Regions from separate parts of the Homo sapiens genome. Here region 2 is linked to region 1. Evidence: fine-mapped expression QTL. A gene starts in region 1. The other region holds a variant in brackets. All regions are shown on one strand. Distances are between the middles of the regions.

Region 1 (3,010 bases):
AAGTGCTGGGATTAGTTAACACACAGAAATGTTCACCAATTAACACTCTAGTGTATTTAATCTCAGATTTTTTTTTAGTTCATCTGTTATATGTAAGTATACATTTTTAATGAGACAATAAATGTATAGATTGCTTTTTAAATTGCTTTATTAGCTTTAAATTTTTCCATGCAAATGGGTGAAACTACTGCTGACAGAAACTTACACTGAGTGCAAAGGCAATCTTCAAATAGAAGCTGGCAACACAAGACCCACTTGACACATGGAAATAACATAGGGTTCACAGCAAACGGATCAGTAAAGGCATATTAGGAAAATGCAAGGAAAAAGAAAACAGCGGGAATCACAGTATTAATCTCATGATAAATGGCAGGAGTCAAGGCATAAGGCAAAATTCATCATGATGGTCATGGTGATTAGAGAGCTCCCCCATAAGGATACGCAGACAATTCCTCAACTGCAGCTCCCTAAGTTTTCTTCTGATTTCTCTCATCTCCTCCATGAATATTTCCATATCATCTCCATCTCCACCCATCCCATCATTGATCTGCCTATTGGGTATGGCCCATCGAAAATTAGGGGCAAGTCGGCGAGCCTGTCCCCGTCGATTTCCTGCAGGCTGGTGGCCTTCACCTCCTCCCAAAGGGCGGTCTTCCTCTCCATTCTGCATAGGCTGCTCCATCTCTTCGTTTTCCTGGTGAATATTTGCCATGATGAGATTTTTTTTTTCTGGTTGTTTTTCTTTGAACACAAGTAAGACAAAGGCAAGGAGAGAGACTGAATGCTTGGTGCTCTGACCAGCAGGATTCAGAGCCCTGATATCAAAGGATTTTTTAATTTCGTTTTTTCCCACCTTAGAAGTTCCGCGCGTCCTCTACGGGGCCTCCAATTAAAGCCCCTCCCTCCAGCTTTCTCCCCTTACCTCCCTTCCCCCAAACCCACCATTTTTCGTTTCCCGGGATTCTTTCCCAGAGCTTTGCAGGCACCAAAATGGAGGACCGGTATAGGAGTGGGGGATGGGGTGGAGGGGGTTGGGGTCTCAGACTGGGCTTTCCTTACGTTCCGACCCCCGCCCCACCACCGTCCCTCGCACCGACCTGGGCCTATCCTTGCAGTCTCCTTCTCCTCCGGATTCTCGCCGCGAGGTGCGCCGCGGAGACACTTAGCCTCGCAGACCTGCAGTCGAGCCGGGGTGGGGGTTGTGGGGGGTGGGGGCTGCTGCAGCGGAACGCTAGCGAAGACCCGCCGCCGCCCGGCCCTTTCCGTGCTCCGAGCCCGGGCTCCCCTCGCTGCCAGCGCCCCGCGTCTCCCGCCCCCCACCCCCACCCCACCCTCGAACGCCCAGCCCCCCGCGGTGTTCGCTGTTTTCCTGCAGGGACTCGGGGGTGGGTTTCCATCGCTCTTGGTGGCTCTGCCGCCCCTGGAAACCCAGCCGCCCCTGCTTCCCCATCCCTGGGGGCCTCTGTGTTCCCAAGCATGTTGGGGTGTGGAGAAAGCTGGCGGGGACCCCCTGCGCTGTTCTGCGCCTGTCGCCGAGGTCGGTCAGCCGCTGCTGGCATGGCCGGGGCTCACGGGCCCCGGAGCCCTTACCTGCTCCGCTTTTCCCCGGGCCGAATGCCAGCCCGCCGAGCTCAGGGCAGCGGGGAGCTGGTAGCCAGACGCGAGTGACGACTGCACCGAAGGCTGCGTCGCTCTGCAGCTCTGGGTCACGTGAGGGCCGCGCGTCACCACCGAGCTCGCCCCCCAACTTGGGCGGCCAGTGCAGCAGGATCTCCCCCTTCCCCCCACCCGCCACCGCCATATGCACGCGCAAAAAACAGCCTCCCTACTCCCGTCTGCATGAGGTGCCCCAGAGCGCACAGCCCTGTCACTCTTCTCGGTCCTCTCCAATCTGAGGGCCCACAAGTGGCATCACTGCTCTGCGGTTGGAGTTTGCCCTCCTCTGGTTACCAGGGAGGGTCTGCATCATCCTCCACCACTGCCCCCTCTCACTTCAGGCCTTGGCTTTGGCCTTTTCTGCTTTCTCTCCTTTTCTACCTGGCAACATGCTTTGCGCTGCACTCCCACTTCTACCCCTTGCGTGTGCACAGCCATCAATGCCCACGTAGCCCCTGAATTCCTACCCTTCTAGAAAATTTAGAGTGAGGGCTAAGGTGGGGAGGCAGGAGGGCATTTGTCAGAAAGCGGGGCAAGGAAGTGGAGTGGACTGTATATATTTCTTTTTATTTCCTTAAAAAATCTGCATGCTTCAGAAAATTATAAATTATAAGTTTTTAATTTTGAAAGAAATGCTGGTTGGGCGCGGTGGCGTACCTGTAATCCCAGCACTTTGGGAGGCCGAGGCGGGTGGATCACTTGAGGCCAGTAGTGTGAGACCAGCCTGGCCAACATGGTGAGACCCCATCTCTACTAAAAATACAAAAATTAGCTGGGCGTGGTGGCGTGCGCCTGTAATCCCAGCTACTCGGGGGGCTGAGGCAGGAGAATCGCTTGAACCTGGGAGGCGGAGGTTGCAGTGAGCCGGGATCGCACCACTGCACTCCAGCCTGGGCGACAGAGCAAGACCCTGTCAAAAAAAAAAAAAAAAAAAAAAAAAAAAAAGGAAATGCTTTATCCTGCACAATGAAATCTCTCATTGTTTATGTTGACCTGTACCACACAAAATATTTTTTCTGGGCTCCACACAACATCAAGCCATTACTTTTGATACATACTAGCTCGTTTAAAATTTTATTTTTGGCCGGGCATGGTGGCTCACGCCTGTAATCCCAGCACTTTGGGAGGCCGAGGCGGGCGGATCACGAGGTCAGGAGATCGAGACCATCCTGGCTAATACGGTGAAACTCCGTCTCTACTAAAAATACAAAAAAATTAGCCAGGCGTGGTGGCACGTGCCTGTAGTCCCAGCTACTCGGGAGGCTGAGGCAGGAGAATCGTTGAACCCGGGAGGCAGAGGTTGCAGTGAGCCGCGTCGCACCACTGCACTTCAGTCTAGGCGGCAGAGCGAGAC
Region 2 (2,718 bases), 83 kb before region 1:
TCCACATCACATTTGGTTTTTCTCTGTTAGCTCCTAGTTCTAGGGCACAGAGTACACCCCTTCTCTGATGTTACACTAGAAGGGAGATAAGAAAGCACATGGAATAGTGAGGAAAGAAAGAGGACAGGTAAGGAGGTTGTACGTGTGATGATGTTTTGCCTATACCCCATTCAGTTAACTGGAAGCTAAGCAATGAGGTTTTTCCTCTCCCTCAGCTTCATCTCACTGTCCCCACCACCACACAGCAGTGATACTCAAGATTGCACATGACAGGCTGGGCACAGTGGCTCACGCCTGTAATCCCAGCCCTTTGGGAGGCCAAGGTGGGCAGATCACAAGGTCAGGAGACTGAGACCGTCCTGGCTAACATGGTGAAACCCTGTCTCTACTAAAAATACAAAAAAATTAGCCAGGCATGGTGGCATGTGCCTATAATAGTCCCAGCTACTTGGAAGGCTGAGGCAGGAGAATCACTTGAACCCAGGAGGCAGAGGTTGCAGTGAGCCGAGATTGCATCATTGCACTCCAGCCTGGGCACCAAAGCAAGACTCCATCTCAAAAAAAAAAAAAAGATTGCACATAATAAGAAATGATAATAGAAATGTAGACTTAAGTCTTAGCCAAGATGGCCGAATAGGAACAGTTCCAGTCTACAGCTCCCAGCGTGAGCGACGCAGCAGATGGGTGATTTCTGCATTTCCAACTGAGGTACCAGGTTCATCTCACTAGGGAGTGCCAGACAGTGGGTGCAGTGCACCGTGCGTGAGCTGAAGCAGAGCAAAGCATTGCCTCACCCAGGAAGCTCAAGGGGTCAGGGAATTCCCTTTCCTAGTCAAAGAAAGGGGTGACAGAAGGCACCTGGAAAATTGGGTCACTCCCACCCTAATACTGCGCTCTTCCAATGGGCTTAACAAACGGCACACCAGGAGATTATATCCCGCACCTAGCTCGAAGGGTCCTATGCCCACGGAGCCTCCCTCATTGCTAGCACAGCAGTCTGAGATCAAACTGCAAGGTGGCAGTGAGGCTGGGGGAGGGGCGCCCGCCATTGCTCAGGCTTGAGTAGGTAAACAAAGCAGCCAGGAAGCTCGAACTGGGTGGAGCCCACCACAGCTCAAGCAGGCCTGCCTGCTTCTGTAGGCTCCACCTCTGGGGGCAGGGCAGACAAACAAAAGACAGCAATAACCTCTGCAGACTTAAATGTCCCTGTCTGACAGCTTTGAAGAGAGTAGTGGTTCTCCCAGCACGCAGCTTGAGATCTGAGAATGGACAGACTGCCTCCTCAAGTGGGTCCCTGACTCCCGAGTAGCCTAACTGGGAGGCAGCCCCCAGTAGGGGCAGACTGACACCTCACACGGCCGGGTACTCCTCTGAGACAAAACTTCCAGAGGAACGATCAGACAGCAACATTTGCTGTTCACCAATATCCACTGTTCTGCAGCCTCCGCTGCTGATACCCAGGCAAACAGGGTCTGGAGTGGACCTCCAGTAAACTCCAACACACCTGCAGCTGAGGGTCCTGACTGTTAGAAGGAAAACTAACAAACAGAAAGGACATCCACACCAAAAACCCATCTGTACATCACCATCATCAAAGACCAAAGGTAGATAAAACCACAAAAATGGGGAAAATACAGAGCAGAAAAACCGGAAACTCTAAAAATCAGAGTGCCTCTCCTC[C/T]TCCAAAGGAACACAGCTCCTCACCAGCAACAGAACAAAGCTGGATGGAGAATGACTTTGACGAGTTGAGAGAGGAAGTCTTCAGAAGATCAAACTACTCCAAGCTAAAGGAGGAAGTTTGAACCCATGGCAAAGAAGTTAAAAACCTTGAAAAAAGATTAGATGAATGGCTAACTAGAATAACCAATGCAGAGAAGTCCTTAAAGGACCTGATGGAGCTGAAAACCAGGCACGAGAACTACGTGACAAATGCACAAGCCTCAGTAACGGATGCGATCAACTGGAAGAAAGGGTATCAGCGATGGAAGACGAAATGAATGAAATGAAGCATGAAGAGAAGTTTAGAGAAAAAAGAATAAAAAGAAACGAACAAAGCCTCCAAGAAATATGGGACTATGTGAAAATACCAAATCTACATCTAATTGATGTACCTGAAAGTGACGGGGAGAATGGAACCAAGTTGGAAAACACTCTGCAGGATATTATCCAGGAGAACTTCCCCAATCTAGCAAGGCAGGCCAACATTCAAATTCAGGAAATACAGAGAACACCACAAAGATACTCCTCGAGAAGAGCAATTCCAAGACACATAATTGTCAGATTCATCAAAGTTGAAATGAAGGAAAAAATGTTAAGGGCAACCAGAGAGAAAGGTCGGGTTACCCACAAAGGAAAGCCCATCGGACTAACAGCTGCTCTCTCGGGAGAAACTCTACAAGCCAGAAGAGAGTGGGGCCCAATATTCAACATTCTCAAAGAAAAGAATTTTCAAGCCAGAATTTCATATCCAGCCAAACTAAGCTTCATAAGTGAAGGAGAAATAAAATACTTTACAGACAAGCAAATGCTGAGAGATTTTGTCACCACCAGGCCTGCCCTAAAAGAGCTCCTGAAGGAAGCACTAAACATGGAAAGGAACAACTGGTACCAGCCACTGCAAAAACATACCAAATTGTAAAGACCACTGAGGCTAGGAAGAAACTGCATCAACTAATGAGCAAAATAACCACCTAACATCATAATGACAGGATCAAATTC

What was found. PIP is the estimated chance that this variant, and not a neighbour inherited with it, causes the effect.
Region 2: its variant is fine-mapped to the expression of BEX3 in whole blood (TOPMed, PIP 0.95).

Annotation. Positions count from the first base shown.
Region 1 is chrX:103,375,194-103,378,203 of GRCh38, reverse strand. BEX3 (brain expressed X-linked 3) reads right to left here and starts at 1,666. Exons shown (of 3, transcript NM_206917.3): 1 at 1,591-1,666; 2 at 1,098-1,176; 3 at 40-694. The coding sequence starts at 682. The coding sequence ends at 377.
Region 2 is chrX:103,458,572-103,461,289 of GRCh38, reverse strand. LL0XNC01-250H12.3 (a long non-coding RNA gene) reads right to left here. Exons shown (of 6, transcript NR_188440.1): 4 at 1-75. Among named protein-coding and RNA genes, the nearest start is that of LL0XNC01-250H12.3, 55 kb to the right of the region's middle. RefSeq lists an enhancer at 614-1,113. The variant C/T (reference allele first, on the strand shown) is at 1,681.